Linked DNA regions of Homo sapiens. The protein of the gene in region 1 interacts with the protein of each later gene in a pairwise test. Each region holds a gene or a part of one and is shown in the gene's direction. Other genes may lie near its edges.

Region 1 (9,932 bases):
CCATGAACTGAAATGAGGTGGCTATGGGAAGAGCAAGGAAAATTTGAGGACAATTGCCACTGTATCAAAATATGTTCGTGAAGGCAGCTGACAAAGGACATTCAATGATGCTATCTTTGTTAGGAAGATGGAGCGTGAGGTGATTTATTTTTTTCCCACATTGTTGGTACTGTTTTCATTTTACTTTTATAGTCAAATATAAATACAAATTTAATTTTTTAAAATGAAAACAGTTTACCTAAAAAGAAAAGCCAAAGGATCATGGGGTCCTTCTAGAGCAGTGCTTTCCAAAGTCGATTCCTTGGATCCTGGAGTTTTTAAAAGGCTTTGAGGAGAACATTGAAGTAGGTGAACCCCAGGACCCTCCCACAGCTATTGGTACCTCTTCAACCAGAACAATCCCACTTGTATCTGTTTTAATTATTGGAGTTCCTTCTGAACTTGTTTTCAAAAAAGAAAAGTTCTACTAAAAAAATGAAGGAAGTTTAAAGAGCAAGGCTCTAGATTTAAATCATGTAATACCTTAAAAACTCAGGTTGCCTTATAAAACTTGAAACCCAAATTAAGCATGGAGTGACTCTTCGTTAGAAATTTAAAACTGAATATGAACTTGAGTTAATGACTTCCTTTTCCTGAGAATGCAAAGAGAGTTAGCCTCTCTGCAATATCAATTTCACTTGACCGCATATGACCATGTTGAATTGGGCTCCTTGTTGAATTAAACCTCCTGGTGTCATACAGAAATCAGTGTGGAGTGAACATCACTATGGGTTTTTATATAGAAAAACTGCACTAAAAACGTGGTTAGGAATCATATCTGAAATATATGTTTTTCAAAATCACTCAGTCATTTTCAAGATTTTTTTTCATTCAGAATTATGTTCTAAGAGGGAGAATTTTGCTTGATACTATTTTTAAAGTGTTGAATTTTATTCCCTTTCTTTCTTTCTTTCTTTCTTTTTCTTTCTTTCTTTCTTTCTTTCTTTCTTTCTTTCTTTCTTTCTTTCTTTCTTTCTTTTTCTTTCTGTATTATACTTTAAGTTCTGGGATACACGTGCAGAACATGCAGGTTTGTTACATAGGTATACAAGTGCCACAGTGGTTTGCTGCACCCATCAACCTGTCATCTACATTAAGTGTTTCTCCTAATGCTATTCAGCAACTATGTGCTGATCTTTTCCTTTTAAGCAATATTAAATAGGTAAGTGAGGGAAAAATTATTTTTGCAATTTAGTTGAGACAGGCTTTTCAAATTTGAATGTCTCGTCACAAGGGATAATATTAAGCTGTTTCTAAACTGTTCTTAGGAATGCAATGGATAGGATGTGTAAGATTCATCTAGTGCTGTTAAATAGCTTGTTATCTAATAGGTGAGCATGAGTTTTAAATATTTTACAAACCTAATATTTTAGTAATTCATTGAGGGAAGATACTCCTACTGCAAGAGTCATCATTGATCCACAGACGAAATACAGGTCTACAAACCCTTAACCACGATTCTAAATTCCAAAAAATTTTGAAAACCAAAATATTTTTTAAAATATAACTTGTTCAGTGCCTGTATTGGAACTGGCCTTGAACATATGTAGAAATTCGGTAGGTAGAGACTAAAAAGGTAGAAAAACAGGCATTTTAGGTAGATACTACATCTTAAGACCCAGATATAGGAAATGCAAAAGTATTTATTTCGGCATCTCAGACTGAGTGTAGAATGTGGTAAATACATATAGGTCTATAATCTCTCATACAAAATCCTTGGAATCAGATTTCAGAAATCAGAAAGTTCTGGATTTTAGAAAGGTAATACAATACCTATACCCTCTACTATATTACACTCCCAGCAGGATCCAGGAAATACCTGGAATGTAGGCAAACCATTTATGTTTGTGCAACACCAAGTGGGATCAATAAAGATAATAAATAACCTCTTGTCAGTTCAGGTCAGATTTTGCTGACCTGTGAGTTATGAAATGAGCTGTGAAAATCAGCTATGAAAAAACATTTGAATTGTTAGAACTTTTGGAGTTTTGGAATTGTGGTTAAGGGCTGATTTGTGCAGATTGAGCTGGTGGGATATATCTGTAGCAGTTTACGGAGGACTTTGAAAATCAGACTGAGACATTGCACCTCTTCCATTAAATGTTGGAAAATCCCTAGGGGCAGGGAGCAATTAAGGGTGAGGCTTTATAGCGTTTATAGTAGAGACACAGGGAGTCTGACAAGGTTGTGTCAGTGAGTTCAAGAACGAAGTAAATGGGAGAAACTTTTTCCAAAAGCAGAATCAGCAGATTTTCATCATGATCTGGGAAGCCGTGGGGAGGTGGGTGGAGAAGTCAGCGAAGAATAAAGGAGCCAAAGGTGATTCCGAGGTTTGAGCTTGAGTTACTACACACAGACAGCAGAAATCTCAAGGAAAGACTTGATTTTATGGAATGATGATGATTTTAGTGTTAGACATAATTTTAAAGTTCTGGAGGGAACTAGGTAAACAATGTCAAGTGAGGCACTGGAAGTGACCTTAGATTTGGAGTCCAAAACAGAAGCCATCCTTGCAGGTGCACATTTTAGAAATTGTATAGAAAAAGACAGGAGAGGCCGGGTGTGGTGGCTCACGCCTGTAATCCCAGCACTTTGGGAGGCCGAGGCAGGCAGATCACGAGGTCAGGAGTTCGAGATGAGCCTGGCCAACATGGTGAAACCCTGTCTCTACTATCAAATACAAAAATTAGCAGGGCATGGTGGTGTGCGCCTGTAATCCCAGCTACTCGGGAGGCTGAGGCAGGAGAATTGCTTGAACACTTGGCCCTGGGAGGCAGAGGTTGCAGTGAGCCGAGATCGTGCCACTGCACTCCAGTCTCAAAAAAAAAAAAAAAAAAAAAAAAAAGAGGAAGAAAAAGAAAACAAAAAGACAGGAGAAAGGGGGAAACCTTGTTAGTGAGGAGGAGCTAGGAAAGAAGAACAAGGATAGGCTGGAGAAATGGTAGAAAAATGGAGACCTGGAAGCCGAGAGATGAGAATAGAAGGAGGAGGATGTGGCACGACCAGAGGACACCAGGCAAGGAACAAGAAGTCCCCCTTCTCATAAACTTTAGTAGCCAGAATCTGAGCCACTGACAGAGGAGGATGCAGAAAATTGGCCTGACAAATCTGTGCCAAAAGACAAGGCAGGTGCAATTATGAAATCATTTGGGAGCCAGATAGCAGCCTAACGAGACCCCCTTGGATCAGCATTGTTGATGCCATAAGTCCTCTCGACCACACTCATGTAATTCTGAGCTACTGTTTTCACAGGAACTAGTATTTGGCTCTATTGCCTTAATAGTTCATTTGTACTGAGGAGGAACCCTAATTTATGTGGAATAGTTTTTAGGCCATGGCTAAAAACAAAAACAAATTTGAATTATGAGCAGGTTGAATTCAATTAGTACCAAGATAATTTCCTGAGACTAAGAATTTCCTTTATTTTCCTTATCATAACTGGTTGTTAGGTGAAAGATAATTTTTAAATGAGTGTATATGTGTTTATGTAAAGCCTTAGCTTAGAGTTTTGCAGTTGATGAAAGCAAATTGTATATGTGTATTTTATATTTGAAATTTGAAATATTGTTTATCTCATTTTTCATCCCTTTTGTTTCTTTTCTCACCCTCTTTTCTTCTTTTAACAAAGTGCTATGTAAACAATAAAGAGCCTATAGATGAGCAAACAGACCTACCCGTACTTTGGCCTTTCAGTCTCATAAAGCAGGAAAATAAATCACTGGGAGAAGTCAATAGAAGTCTATTTTTAACATGATTTCATTTTGCTAATCTATGGCATTTTAAATCATTTTTCTTCTGTAGAAAACTTTAATAGCCTTTGAAAGGTTAATGATTCAGTTTGAGATAGAATATTAGCATTGTGTGTGGTGATTACATAAAAACATTTGTTCTGCAAATATTTATTGATTGCCTGGGTGCTTGGAGCTACTGGCAGTGAGAAGATTTGGTTCCCACTCCCAAAGAGTTTATAGACTGGTGAGGCATTGATGCGGGCAGGGGAGCATCCTGATACAATTGCGTCACAGAGTCAGAGGTGTTGGGGCAGTTGTTAGTGGGATGACAGCAGTGCTAGTGACTGCCTCTTCCTTATGGGGAGATGGCAGGTGATAGCTAATGTGGCTCTTGAAGGATGATTAGGATATCAGGCCAAGAGGGAGAAAGGAGCATTTCAGGTAGAAGTAATAATGTGCCAACTGCATGGAGACATGGCAGTCCACACCTGTTATAATACAGTGAAACACGTGATTTGCATGGGGCCTGGGGTTGGGTGGGGAAAAACAAGGACTAGAAAGATAGATTGGCACCAGTTTGGGAAGAGTCTTCTATGCACACTAAGCCCTTAGGACTTGAGCTTCCTATAGGCAGTATGTGAACCTTCCAGGGTTTTAAGCAAAGAGTGCATTTTACAAAGACAGTTCTGGGACAGTGTGTTGGTGGCAGGACCAGTGTAGTCCTCTCACTGGCTACTGCAAGCAGTACCATTTATTCATTCAACACATATTTTTGCATTCAGTGTCTATTTGTTAAATGCCTCTTTTGTGCCAAGTGCTGCGTTTGTGATTTGTAATTCTGCATCTTTTTACTTCATTGTCTTTGTATTTAGCCGTAAGTCAATGGTCTCGGCACAGTTATTTGTGAAATGCTATAGTAGATTGCTGCTTTTGCACCTATATCATAAGCTTTCATCTGTTGTTACCATATTTTTTATAAATGCCATCTATGATTTGAAGTATATAAATGTTAAAGCGCAACAGATTTTAGCTGTTATCTAGGCCAAATTCTTCATTTTACGCATAATGGATTTATGATCTAAAAAACTGAAGCTCAGTGTCACTTAGCTAATTAATTCCAGGGCTGGAACATGGGCTATCTGTAAATTTGAGGTTCTTGCTTTAATGCAAAAGAATTATGCATCAGGTGTGCACCATGTTGGTTGAGGAAAAAGAAGTGGCATGGTGTCTTTATTGCCCCTGCGTCTCAGGTTTCTCCACCTCTCCCCTCCCCGCCCTTCCCACTCTGCCCCTGAAAGCCCCCCACCAGCTTTACTGCTCTCATAGTGCCACCTTGTGAGTTCTTTATTCACAGTTAATTCTGTGATAGTTCTTCCAGTGATCTGGTAGGTGGTGGAAATAAGTTACTCAACTGCCTGAGAAGGTCAAATTTCATTGTTTAATGATGAATCTTGTTGTAGCCCTAACTGCCCACTAAAAGTAAACTTGTAAGGACTGTAAAACCTTGTTAGCCCACAGCCTGTAATAGAATGGACAGATGCCACCCTAGTTGTGTCTTAAGAAATTAAGAAGCTTTTAGGTGTTTAATAAATGAGAGTTGAGCCTCCCTTTCTGGGACTCACCTGAACCACAGTCTCTGAGGGGGTCTTGCTGCATTCACAGATACCGGGTCCATCCGTAGTTTACAGACAGGTGTGGGAGAGCTGCATGGGGAAACCAGATTCTGGCATGGAAAGGACTACTGCAATTTCGTCTTCAAAGACTGGGTTCAACTTGATAAACCTTTTGCTGGTGAGTATCATAATGGTGGGGTGCTGGTTATATTTTGTCTTTTACCTTTGAACATCTCAGCAAGTATACATGTGCATGATCTAAATGCCTTTTGTTTTGCTTCCGTTGATTTTTGAAAATTTTTTAAAACTTTGGAGACTAGATTTAGTCATTAGCATGTGCTTAAGGACTTTTTTTTCAGTTATAATAAGAAAAGAACATGAAATAGAGCTGAACTGTCTGAAAAATCCAGATTTTTATAGGCATATTTTGGGGGCAATAATCAGTAATTTTTCAGGAAATGGTAGGCTCCCTTTGATCATCTTCTATTCTGCTTATTTCCTGCATTTCCAGCGTTAGAATGGCATATTTTCAGGTTATCACTGGGTTTATATGTTTAAGAGGAGATAGAGATGGCATTGCCTGCCATTGTTTCAACAGGATAAAAAATAAAAAATATAATATCAAATACACAGCCTTAGATAATTTGTACCAACTCACATCTTGCCATGTCTAGTGATTATCTAATCCTAAGTGAAACGGAAACATATGTGGGGAAGTGCCTGGGAGACTATGTCCCTGAATGTGAAATCTGTTTCCCTTGATTATAAAAATGTTGTTCTATGCAAGCCAAGAAATATATACCTAGTGGGCACTAACCCACGTTTCCTTTTAGTTTCATAGTTGGAGTCAGAGAGACTTTGCCCCAACACTGAAGTTAATGACTGATCCTTGCCTGGTGCACCCGGGCAGATTTCATTGACAGGTACTCCACGCCCCGGATGCCCTGGCATGACATTGCCTCTGCAGTCCACGGGAAGGCGGCTCGTGATGTGGCACGTCACTTCATCCAGCGCTGGAACTTCACAAAAGTACTTGGATGTTGCTATCATGATTTATCCACATGAAGAGAGGCAGGCCTAACTAGAGAAGAGGTTTAGAGGAGGCTGGTAGCAAGAAGAGACTGTTGTGGCCACAACTGTGTCACTGCTCTGCTGTTGGCTGCATTGATGTCCGGGTGCCTGGGCATCTGGGCAAAAAAAAAGGGAAACATTCCCGAATGTCCACACCATAGACAATTCAGAGTGCCTAGGGACAGGTGCTGCTGTGTGGGTCCTGATTTTAACCTTGTTAACATCTTGGACACAGTGTTGACTAAGCATTTAGTAGCCTGGGCTCGGTAGTCATTTGCAGGGCTGTTATAGGGGGATAGGAGCCTGGTTTAGATGAGAGGGCTTGAGCTTTAAAGTCCCATCCAGTTGGATGGGACTGGAATTGCACTGGGTTTATATTGGTACAGGATTCTGAGAGCTGGTTCTGAGCAAACCAAGAAGTATTAAGAAGGTGGGGCCATTTTCCTTTTATCCAGATTGTGTCCTCATTACTTGTAAGAACTTGACATAACATTCAAACCTAACATTCATAAGTTAAGTACGTATCATTCAGGCCAGGCACGGTGGCCCACGACTGTAATCCTGGCACTTTGGGAGGCCTAGGCTGGTGGATCACCTGAGGTCAGGAGTTCGAGACCAGCCTGACCAACATGGTGAAAACCTGTCTCTACTAAAATACAAAAATTAGCTGGGCATGGTGGTGGGTGCCTGTAATCTCAACTGCTCTGGAGGCTGAGGCAGGAAAATCACTTGAATCCAGGAGGCGGAGTTTGCAGTGAGCTGAGAGGACTCCATTGTACTCCAGCCTAGGCAACAGAGCGAGACTCTGTCTCAAAAAAAAAAAAAAAAAGTACATATTCAGGTGTTATTAAAGTTTCACTTTATTTACTTGAAGGGATAATGAGTCATGATTCCCCTTGGTCGTTTGGAAAAAGAATTTAGTTTTATCAACCACTTAGAGTCTAACTTTGTTTTTCATTCACATAATGATTATAAAAATTTAGTGGACATTCTAATTGAAATTTTTTAACAAAAATTTAGGGGAGATGGATGAATAAACAAATGGGGTGTTACTTTTAACCTGCTATACTGGCAAAGATAAAAGTCTCTGCTGATACCTGTAGTTAGGTTTGGGGTGGTTTTTGTGGTGTGCTCATACATGCTACCCCAGGGAGGATAAATTTGTACAACACCAATAAGTCTTTTTTAAAGTATGCAATCTTTGATCCAGAAAAACTATTTCCGGGTATTCAAACTAAAGCCATAATCCAATAAGGTAATTTATTTTGATATGGCTTCTAATAATTCAAATAAAATTAGAAATAACAGAAATCCTTACTAATAGGAATTTATTAAACAAATGATTCTTTTATACCATTTTACTATGAAGTTATTAAAAATAATGATATCCCACTATATTGCTGTGACAAGATATCTAGAACATAATCAGTAAAAAATTAGTTTATAAAACAATAGTCTCATTTTTGCAATTATAAAGTTCTGTAACTACAGATTATATTTAACCTGTCTTTACAAATATAAAACAATATTTCCCCTACAAAAGGTAAAAACAGGACTGTGAGAAGTAGAAAACAAACACAAATAATCTGTAGCCCTTCACTTAGAAATGTCCACCATTAACATTTTTCTTTTTCTTTTTCAAATTAACCTGAATTTCTTTTCTTTTCTTTTTCTTTTTTTTTTTTTTTTTTTTGAGATGGAGATTCACTCTTGTCACCCAGGCTGTAGTGCAATGATGAAATCTCGACTCACTGCAACCTCTGCCTCCGAGGTTCAAGTGATTCTCCTGCCTCAGCCTCCCGAGTAGCTGGGATTACAGGCGCCCGCCACCATGCTTGGCTAATTTTTGTATTTTTAGTAGAGATGGGGGTTTCACCGTGTTGGCCAGGCTGATCTCGAACTCCTGACCTCAAGTGATCCCCGCTTCTTGGCCTCCCAAAGTGCTGGGATTACAGGCGTGAGCCACTGCACCTGGGCATGAATTTCTTTTATAATCACAAAGTAGGGAGAATGAATCTTTTTTCTCATTTGAATATTTTATCCTTTTTCTTTATTTTAGATTATGAAATCAAAATATCGGTCCCTTTCTTATCCTTTTCTGCTTCCAAAGTCTCAAACAACAGCCCATGAGTTGAGATATCAAGTGCCTGGGTCTGTCCATGCTAACGTACAGGTAAGTAAGTTCTGGCTTTTCTTTTTGACAAAATGCTACTGAGTAAAATTACTGTTATTGGACCAAGGGCCTATTACATTGGCTTCAGATTTTTCAATGACTGCTTTTCTAAAGCAAAACTAAATGGATCTTTTAATACTTGTTATTATATTTCCTATGTTAAATGGATTCAATTCAGTCTCTTTTTAAAACTCTTATAAATATAATAAATGCATGTCCTTAGAAAAGGCCACAGCCAAGGCTATTCCTGTAATTCCTTCTGAAGTGACCCTAGCAACATGATACCCAGTAAACCTGGACCTGATACTGCCTAAGCACCAGGAATGTGGCTGAAACTTAGCAGCTAGGAAGCTAGTTGTAGTTCAGTCTAATTTTAGTTCCTGATTAACCAAATGTCTTCTAGAGGCCCTTTTAATGGAATAAGGAATTTGCTTAATAGAGTCACAACAGTTTACCACATCCAGTTTAACCATCTCAAACTACAAATAAGAAAATTCAGACCTAGTGGGGCTCTGAGGCCTATCTAGGGCCGGCCAGCTAGTTATCAACAGAGGTGGAGCTTGAAATCCTAGTCTGGTCCAGTGTTACCCAATCTGCTTCCTTTACCAACTACAGCTCAAATATCTTGAGATCATGTGGGGACAGAAGTAGGATGGGCCACCTTTGGCATTGCCTTTTGTTTGAAGTCATCAATATGGGCATCAGAAGAATTGTTTAAGTAAAGTCCAGCAGTCTGCTACTGCTACATATCATCAGTAGGGACCATCAGTAGGGACTTATATAATGCAGACATGGATCCTAGGGAATGTGATTATATAAATGAAGTGCCTAAATCAGTTATTTTGCATCGTGTGCAATTGGAGGTATGTGTATATAAGAAATAAGACATTTCAGACTGTAGATCAAATAATAGAACTTTTTTTAAAAAAGGCCAGGTGTGGTGGCTCCCACCTGTAGTCCTAGCACTTTGGGAGGCCGAGGCGGGTGGATCACCTGAGGTCAGGAGTTCGAGACCAGCCTGGCCAACCCTGTCTCTACTAAAAATAAGAAATTAGCTGGGCGTGGTAGCGTGCGCCTGTAATCCTAGCTACTCGGGAGGCTGAGGCAGGAGAATCGCTTAAACCCAGGAGGCAGAGTTTGCAGTGAGCCGAGACTACACCACTGCAGTCCAGCCTGGGTGACAGAGTAAGAGTCCATCTCAAAAAAAAAAAGATAAGCTGCTTGAGAGAAATATCGGCAGCAAATATTAGTCATCCCAGGCTAAAAAGAAAACTAATTTAAACTCAGAGGCATAGAGATAGCTAT
Region 2 (9,932 bases), on another chromosome or scaffold:
TCTTTCTTTTTTTGAGACAGAGTCTTGCTCTTGTTGCTCAGGCTGGAGGGCAATGGCGCAATCTCAGTTCACTGCAACCTCTGTCTCCCAGGTTCAAGCAATCCTCCTGCTTCAGCCTCCTGAGTAGCTAGGATTACAGGCACACACCACCATACCCAGCTAATCGTTTGTATTTTTAGTAGAGACGGAGTTTCACCATGTTGGCCAGGCTGGTCTCAAACTCCTGACCTCAGGTGATCCACCCGCCTCGGCCTCCCAAAGTGCTGGGATTACAGGCGTGAGCCACTGCACCCAGCCAATAGATGATGAGGATTCTATAAATGAGTATTCATGTAAAATGCCTAGAATAATCTTGAACACGGTGAAGTCATTCCAAGGTGGGCGGCTCGGCACGAGAATGATGAAAGGGCCGTCTGCTGGGAAAGCAGGGACTGTTGAATATCAGAGTGAGTTTGGCTGGCTGAGCAGGTGCATCCTTCCTGGCCCTGGCTCTAGGAGCTCTGCCTTCCCAGGTAGTACAGGGTTCTCTAGTTAGGTGGTTTTTGAGAAGCTGCAATTCTCAGCTGGACACCGTGGGCTTAGAGTAGGAGGTGTAAAAAGTTAATGCAAGCTCTAGGATGTCAAGCATTGGGTGGGTTGCAGGAATAATGTGAGAGGAAGCTAAAAAAGGTATGTTTGGGGCCGGGTGTGGTGGCTTATGCCTGTAATCCCAGCACTTTGGGAGGCCGAGGCAGGCGGATCATGAGGTCAGGAGTTCGAGACCAGCCTGACCAAGATGGTGAAACCCTGTCTCTTCTAAAAATACAAAAAATTAGCCAGGCATGGTGGTGGGCGCCTGTAGTCTCAGCTACTCGGGAGGCTGAGGTAGAGAATTGCTTGAAACCAGGAGCCGGAGGTTGCAGTGAGCCGAGATTGCACCACTGCACTCCAGCCTGGGCAACAGAGCGAGACTCTGGCTCAAAAAAAGAAAAAAAAAAAAAAAGGTATGTTTGGGCCACATCTTTAAGGACCTTGAAACCATGCGTAGCAATTTGGGTATTTATTGGTGAAGTGGAGCAATAGTTCACTCTGTGTTGTAGCAAGTTAACTGTGGTGGTGTAGAGAATAGATTGAGGTGAGGAGAGGAGGAAGTCCTTTTAGAAGACCAGGACAAAAGTGCCAGTGAGACAGGATGTCTTGGAGTAGGGCCCTGATAGTGGGATGCAGAAGAGGGGGATGGAGACTGTAGTCTTTCTAAGATAGAAAGGTCACTTTTTGGCCAGGCGCAGTGACTCGTGCCTGTAATCCCAGCACTTTGGGAGGCCATGATCCCTGGTGGATCACGAGGTCAGGAGATTGAGACCATCCTGGCCAACATGGTGAAACCCTGTCTCTACTAAATACACAAAAATTAGCCAGGCGTGGTGGCAGGCACCTATAGTCTCAGCTACTCAGGAGGCTGAGGCAGGAGAATCACTTGAACCCAGGAGGAGGAGGTTGCAGTGAGCTGAGACCACGCCACTGCACTCCAGCCTGGGCGACAGAGTGAAGCTCCATCTCAAAAAAAAAAAAAAAAAAGAAAAGAAAAGTCACTTCTCAGTGAACTGGCTATACAGGGGAGGGAAAGAGCTGTCTGAAGATTTCTTGCCTGTGGCCGGATGTGGTGGCTCATGCCTGTAATCCCAGCACTTTGGGAGGTCTAGGTAGGAGGATCGCTTGAGCTCAGGAGTTTGAGACCAGCCTGAGCAACATAGTGAGACTTCATCTCTACAAAAAGTTAAAAAATTAGCGGGTGTGGCGCTACGTGCCTGTAGTCCTGGCTACCCGGGAGGCTGAGGCAGGAGGATGGCTTGAGCCGGGGAGGTTGAGGCTGCAGTGAGCTATGATCATGCCACAGTACTCAGGCCTGGGCGACAGAGGGAGACTCCATCTCAAAAAAAAAAAAAAAGACAAAAACAAAAAAACAGAAACAGGAAAGACCAAAGCTATTTGCATTTGAGGGGCAAAGCAGCAAGAGAACACTCCCCAGTGGGAACTGACTGAGCTGGCAGGCAATAGGCAGCTGGGTCAAAGAGCTCAGATGTCAGAATGATGGAATCTGACTTCAAGAGCGTTTGACAGGATAGAAGGGTGGGCCAGTTCTAACAAGATGAACTTTTACAGAAACAAGAAATGTTGCTTACAAGCACTTGGTATGAAAAACTTTTTTTTTTGATACAGAGTTTGGTTTTGTTGCCCAGGCTGGAGTGCGGTGGCGCAATCTGGGCTCACTGCAAGCTCCGCTTCCCAGGTTCACACCATTCTCCTGCCTCAGCCTCCCGAGTAGCTGGGACTACAGGTGCCCGCCACCACGCCTGGCTAATTTTTTTGTACTTTTAGTAGAGACGGGGTTTCACTGTGTTAGCCAGTATGGTCTCGATCTCCTGACCTCATGATCCGCCTGCCTCAGCCTCCCAAAGTGCTGGGATTACAGGCGTGAGCCACCACGCCCGGCATTTTTTTTTTTTTTTTTTTTTTGAGATGGAGTCCCGGTCTGTCGCCCAGGCTGTGGTGTGATCTCGGCTCACTGCAACCTCTGCCTCCCAGGTTCAAGCGATTCTTGTGCCTTAGCCTCCCGAGTAGCTGAGATTACAGGCATGCACCATCATGCCCTGCTAAGTTTTGTATTTTTAGTAGAGACGGGGTTTCACCATGTTGGCTAGGCTGATCTCGAACTCCTGAGCTCAGGTGATCCACCCGTCTTGGCCTCCCAAAGTGCTGGCATTACAGGCGTGAGCCATCTCGCCCAGCCCTGGGGCACTGTTTTTGATACCCATCCCAATTTCTAGCTCTTGGGGAACTTAAGAATAAAGGCAAATTAAAAAAAAATCCTCAAAAGAGTGACAGTCTGAAAGCTGTCATTTGTGTCACAAGGATATGACACAAATGAAGAGGGCACTGGAAACCTGGACATGTATGGAATAACAAAGATAAGCTGGGTTTTTTTTGTTTTTTTTTTTGACAGGGTCTCTGTTGCCCAGGCTGGGGTGCAGAGTGGTGCAGTCATGGCTCAGCACAGCCTCGACCTCCCAGGCTCAGGTGATTCTCCCACCACAGCCTCCCAAGTATCTGGGACTACAGGTGTACACCATCATGCCCAGCTAATTTTTTGTATTTTTTTGTAGAGATGGGGTTTCGCCATGTTGCCCACGCTGGCCTTAAACTCCTGGACTCAAGAGGTCTTGGCCTCCCAAAGTGCTGGATTACAGACATGAGCCACCGCACTTGACCACGGTTATCTTTTTTTTTTTTTTGAGACGGAGTTTCGCTGTTGTTGCCCAGGCTGGAGTGCAATGGTGCAATCTCGTCTCACTGCAACCTCTGCCTCTTTGAAGTTCAAGAGATTCTCCTGCCTCAGTGAGTATCTGGGATTACAGGCATGCACCACCACGCCCGGCTAATTTTGTATTTTTAGTAGAGATGGGGTTTCTCCATGTTGGTCAGGCTGGTCTTGAACTCCCGACCTCAGGTGATCCGCCTGATTCGGCCTCCCAAAGTGCTGAGATTACAGGTGTGAGCCACCACGCCTGGCCGACCATGGTTCTCTTTAAGTGTTTAGATAACTTACACAGAAAAGAAGGTAGAAATATCTGATCCTAGAAGGAAGAATCAGGTAAATCCAGTGGCTAAAAGTTACCAGGAATTGCTGGGCATGGTGGCTCAATGCCTGTAATCCCAACACTTTGGGAGGCTGAAGAGGGCGGATCACTTGAGGTCAGGAGTTTGAGACCAGCCTGGCCAACATGGTAAAACCCCATCTCTACTAAAAATACAAAAATCAGCTGAGTGTGATGGCACGTGTCTGTAGTCCCACCTACCTGGGAGGTGGAGGCTGAAATGGCACCACTGCACTCCAGCCTGGGTGACAGAGCAAGACTCCATCTCAAAGAAAAAAAAAAGTTATAAGGAAGGTTTTACCTCAACATTATAATTTTATTAGAACTGGGCTGGGCGCAGTGGCTCATGCCTATAATCCCAGCACTTTGGGAGGCCGAGGCGGGCAGATCATGAGGTCAGGAGTTTGAGAACAGCCTGACTAACATGGTGAAACCCCATCTCCACTAAAAATACAAAAATTAGCCGGGCGTGGTGGTATGTGTGCCTATAATCCCAGCTGCTCAGGAGGCTGAGGCAGGAGAATCACTTGAACCTGGGAGGTGGAGGCTGCAGTGAGCCAAGATCGCACCACTGCATTCCAGCCTGGCAACAGAGCAAGACTCCGTCTCAAAAAAAAAAGGCGTGGTGGTGCTACTTGGGAGGCTGAGGCAAGAGAATCGCATGAACTGGGGGACAGAGGTTGCAGTGAGCCGACATCACGCTATTGCACTCCAGCCTCGGCAATACAGCGGGACTCCATCTCAAAAAAAAAAAATTATTATAATTGTGGAACAAACAGTGGTGCCTCAGGTATGTCGAGTCCTTGGAGCTGCATAAGCAGAGACCATATGGTGATGTCGCTGGGATGCTGGCAGGGGATCTACACCGTGGTTGGGTGTGTGGAGGGGTGGATTGACAGAGTGGAGGGAGCAGACGAATGGCTGCTGACATCTAAGAACCTGAGGTAGTCTAGGCCCATGGCTGCTGGCTCCAGAATTGCACCATCCTGGGATTGTGGCTGCCCTTTCACTTTCAATCATTTCTTTTGCAGGAAAACAAGAGTAGAGGCCAATTCTCCTCTTCCAAAGAACTCTGGATCCCTAAATGAGGCAGAAGCCTTGAACCCAGAAGTTACTCTATCTTCAGAGGGGTCCTTAAACCTCGAAGACATTCTCTACCTGGAGGACACAGGTGACCTTGATGAGACACTCTATGTGCAAGAGACTGAGAAGGCAGAGGAGGCCCTGTATATTGAGGAGGCCATGCAGCCAGATGAGGCTCTGCATGTGGAGGAGCCTGGGAATCCAGAGGAGACAGTGTGTGTGGAGGAAACCACGGAGCCAGATCGGATACAGTTTGTGGAGGGGCCCGTGGAGCCAGGAAAGCCCACAAGCCCAGAGCACGTTGTTTATGAGGGAGAGACAGTCACAAGGGCGGAGAAATCTAACCCTGAGGAGAGCCTCAGAGCCGAGCAGAGCCCCAGCATGGAGGAGAACCTGAGCATAGAGGACCTGGAATTGCTAGAGGGGCGTTTCCAGCAGTGTGTCCAAGCTGTGGCCCAGCTGGAAGAGGAGAGGGATCAGCTCATCCATGAGCTTGTATTGCTCCGGGAACCAGCCCTGCAGGAGGTACAGCAAGTCCATCAAGACATCCTGGCTGCCTACAAGCTCCATGCCCAAGCAGAGCTGGAGAGAGATGGCCTAAGGGAGGAGATCCGGCTGGTCAAGCAGAAGCTTTTCAAAGTGACAAAGGAATGTGTGGCCTACCAATACCAGCTGGAGTGCCGCCAGCAGGACGTGGCTCAGTTTGCCGATTTCCGGGAAGTGCTGACTACAAGGGCAACCCAGCTCTCAGAGGAACTGGCCCAGCTCCGGGATGCCTATCAGAAGCAGAAGGAGCAGCTGCGGCAACAACTAGAAGCCCCTCCAAGCCAGAGGGATGGGCACTTTCTCCAGGAAAGCCGGCGACTCTCTGCCCAGTTTGAAAATCTCATGGCAGAGAGCCGCCAGGACCTGGAGGAGGAGTATGAGCCTCAGTTCCTGCGGCTCCTAGAGAGGAAAGAAGCTGGGACCAAAGCTCTGCAGAGAACCCAGGCTGAGATCCAGGAAATGAAGGAGGCTCTGAGACCCCTGCAAGCAGAGGCCCGGCAGCTCCGCCTGCAAAACAGGAACCTGGAGGACCAGATCGCACTTGTGAGGCAAAAACGAGATGAAGAGGTGCAGCAGTACAGGGTAGGCCCATTGGGCATGAAAAGAACTGAGGTCTTTTAACCTGGGGAAAGAGTGGCCAGAGTCCAAGGTCTTTGGGGCTGAAAGATAGTGTCACATGTAGGAAGAAAAATTTGTTCTTTGGGGCCACGCAATTTTTTCTCCATTCTTCATTCATTCAGGCCCATGCTAGGGACTAGAAGTTATCTGCACTGTTTTTTGTTTTTTTTTTTTTGAGATGGAGTCTCGCTCTGTCGCCCAGGCTAGAGTGCAGTGGTGCGATCTCAGCTCACTACAAGCTCTGCCTCCTGGGTTCATGCCATTCTCCTGCCTCAGCCTTCTGAGTAGCTGGGACTACAGGTGCTCACCACCATGCCCGGCTATTTTTTTGTATTTTTAGTAGAGTCGGGGTTTCACTGTTGTTAACCAGGATGGTCTGGATCTCCTGACCTCGTGATCCGCCTGCCTTGGCCTCCCAAAGTGCTGGGATTACAGGTGTGAGCCACCGCGCCCGGCCTGCACTCTGTTTTTTTTGCGACAGGGTCTTGCTGTCACTTAGGCTGGTGCAGTGGCATGATCACAGCTAACTGCAGCCTCGACCTCTCAGGTTCAAGCGATCCTCCCACCTCAGCCTCTTGAGTAGCTGGGACCACAACTGTGCACCAACATGCCCAGCTAATTTTTTCTTTTTTGAGACAGGTGCAATCTTGAGGGCTCACTGCACCTCAAACCTCTTGGGCTCAAGCGATCCTCCTGCCTTAGCCCCCAAGCAGCTGGGACTACAAGTGTGTGCCACCATACCTGGCTAATTTTTTGTAGAGACAGGGTTTCACCACGTGGCCCAGGCTGGATTTGAACTCCTGAGCTCAAGCTATCCGCCTGCCTTGGCCTCCCAAAGAGCTAGGATTATAGGTGTGAGCCACCGCAGCCGGCCAATTTTTGTATTTTTTGTAGACAGGGTTTTGCCATGTTGCCCAGGCTGGTCTTGAAATCCTGGGCTCAAGTACTTTTAATGGCAAAAGCTGCAATTAATTTTGCACCAACCTTAATAGAATCCTCTCATCTTCACTTTCCTTTTATGTGCATTTGTCCCCATCTCTCTTGCATTCAAGTTATTTCTGATTAAGTGTGAGCCAGTTCTAATCCCTTTTTAGAACAGAGTGGGATATAAATACTAAGTGAATAAACAATTACGTAGTCCCTCCTAGACTGTGAACTTTCAGAAGGTAGGGAATACATTTTACTTATTGTTGTATTACTCTCTGCTACTCAAGGCTCAGAGCACATGTGCTGCTGGGCACTAATGAGAAGACTGTAGTGTGGTGCTCTAAGCAGTACTTTAATCTTTTGAAACACTGATTCCTTTGGATAAACTTAGAAATCTATGTCTTCCCAGAGATTGTGATATGCCCTTAAGGGAACAAGTTTCCCTGTTGAAATGGCTGCATTCACTTCACTGAAGATTTTGTCAAGCTTTCTGTAGTTTGTATTATGAAAACACTCTGTCTGGGAGCGGTGGCTCACGCCTGTAATCCCAGCACTTTGGTTGGGAGGCTGAGGTGGGTGGATCACAAGGTCAGTAGTTTGAGACAAGTATAGCCAATATGGTGAAACCCCGTCTCTACTAAAAAGACAAAAATTAGGGGGGCATGGTGGCACATGCCTGTAGTCCCAGCTACTTGGGAGGCTGAGGCAGGAGAATCGCTTGAACCCGGGAGGCGGAGGTTGCAGTGAGCTGAGATTGCACCACTGCACTCTAGCCTGGGTGACAGAGTGAGACTCCATCTCAAAAACAAACAAAAACAAACAAACAAAAAAAAAACACTGTGGTTTTTGGGGTCATAATACTGAATGTTTTTTATTTTTATCTTTATTTATTTATTTTTGAGACAGAGTCTTGCTCTTTCACCCAGGCTGGAGTGCACTGAACCAATCTCGGCTCACTGCAAACTCCACCTCCCGGGTTCAAGCAATTCTCATTTCAGCCTCCTGAGTTGCTGGGACTACAGGTGCCCGCCACTGCACCCAGCTAATTTTTTGTATTTTAGTAGAGATGGGGTTTCACCATGTTGCCCAGGGTGGTCTCAAACTCCTGAGCTTAGGCAGTCCACCCGCCTCAGCCTCCCAGTTATTTTTACAGAGTCTCGCTCTGTCACACAGGCTGGAGTGCAGTGGAGTGCAGTGGCATGATCTCAGCTCACTGCAACCTCTGCCTCCTGGGTTCAAGCAATCCTCCTGCCTCAGTCTCCCAAGTTGCTGGGATTGCAGACCTGTGCCACCATGCCCAGCTAATTTGGGTATTTTAGTAGAGATGGGGTTTCACCATGTTGGTCAGGCTGGTCTCGAACACCTGACCTCAGGTGATCCACCGGCCTCAGCCTCCCAGTGTTGGGATTACAGGCGTAAGCCACCACACCCAGAAGTAATACTGAATGTTTTTAAACTCTTCATATTCCCCTTACCCTATTTTTTAAAAAATTGGTTCACAGTCTAGTGAAAAGTCATTTATTTAGCATCAATACTATCCTTAACAGCCAATACTCAGACAGACATTACATTAATAGTTGTATCTCAGAGAAGAAAGTAATAGGTGATTTATGAGAGGTGCAGGTAAAAGGGCTGTGGGATAGATGATGATGATGATGATGATTATTATTTTTTGAGACGGAGTCTGTCACTCTTGCCCAGGCTGGAGTGCAGTGGCGCTCAGCTCACTGCAAGCTCTGCCTCCCGGGTTCGCGCCATTGTCCTGCCTCAGCCTCCCGAGTAGCTGGGATTGCAGGCGCCCGCCACCGCACCAGGCTAATTTTTTGCATTTTTAATAGAGACGGGGTTTCACCGTGTTAGCCAGGATGGTCTCCATCTCCTGATCTTGTGATCCGCCCGCCTCGCCTCTCAAAGTGCTGGGATTACAGGCATGAGCCACTGCGCCCGGCCGGGATAGATTATTTTTAGGCGCTGGTTAAATCAGAGAACTCTTCATGAAAAAAGAGGTGGAATTTGAGCTAGGTATGAAAGCATAGGGAGAATCTAGACCAGTGCTGCCCAACAGAAATATAATGCAAGTCACATAAATAATTACAAATTTTCTAATAGCCACATTAAAATAGGCAAAAATTCAGCTGAGCTAAGCCTGAGGGGAGCAGGGGAGAAAAGATATAGGTAAAATTAATTTAAATATATTTTATCTAACTCAACATATCTGAAATATAATTAGTAACTTGGCTGCAGGTGACAAGCTTGAGTTTTGGACTTTATTCAGTAGTCTGCTGCATCATTAAAGGGATTTAATCAGGGAAGTAACATGATTGCCTTGCTACTTTTTTTTTTTTTTCTGAGATGGAGTCTCCCTCTGTCACCCATGCTGGAGTGCAGTGGCACGATCTCGCCTTGCTGCAACCTCCACTTCCCAGGTTCAAGCAATTTTCCTGCCTCAGCCTCCCAAGTAGCTGGGATTACAGGCGCCTAACACCATGGACGTGGCTAATTTTTTTTTAGTCGGAGTCTCTTCTATTGCCTAGGCTGGAGTGCAATAGCGTGATCTCGGCTCATTGCAACCTCTACCTCCCGGGTTCAAGCAGTTCTCCTGCCTCAGCCTCCCGAGTAGCTGGGACTACAGGTGCACAGTGCCACGCCTGGCAAATTTTTTTTGTTGTTTTTTTTTGTTTTTTGAGAAGGAGTCTCGCTCTGTCACCCAGGCTGGAGTGCAGTGGCATGATCTGGGCTCACTGCAACCTCTGCCTCCTGGGTTCAAGCGATTTTCCTGCCTCAGCCTCCCGAGTAGCTGGGACTACAGGTGCATGCCACCATAGCTGGCTAATTTTTTCTATTTTTATTAGAGACAGTGTTTCACTATGTTAGCCAGGATGGTCTTGATCTCCTGACCTCATGATCCACCTGCCTCGGCCTCCCAAAGTACTGGGATTATAGGTGTGAGCCACTGAGCCCGGCCAATTGTTTGTATAGTAGGGACGGGGTTTCACCGTATTGCCCAGGATGGTCTTGAACTCCTGAGCTCAGGCAGTCTGCCTGCCTCGGCCTCCCAAAGTGCTGGGATTACAGGCATGAGTCACCACGCCCGGCCCTAATTTTCGTGTTTTTGGTAGAGAT

Evidence for each region.
Region 2: the proteins of PLD1 (region 1) and SYNC interact in binary tests that used the Homo sapiens proteins (3 or more experiments, as listed by UniProt).

What each region holds. Positions count from the first base shown.
Region 1 is NC_000003.12:171,673,195-171,683,126, reverse strand, and holds part of PLD1 (phospholipase D1), read left to right. Parts: intron 1-5,432; coding exon 5,433-5,561; intron 5,562-6,293; coding exon 6,294-6,412; intron 6,413-8,513; coding exon 8,514-8,627; intron 8,628-9,932. UniProt on the Homo sapiens protein: Function as phospholipase selective for phosphatidylcholine. Implicated as a critical step in numerous cellular pathways, including signal transduction, membrane trafficking, and the regulation of mitosis.
Region 2 is NC_000001.11:32,690,779-32,700,710, reverse strand, and holds part of SYNC (syncoilin), read left to right. Parts: intron 1-3,281; exon of another isoform or gene 3,282-3,375; intron 3,376-4,666; coding exon 4,667-5,846; intron 5,847-9,932.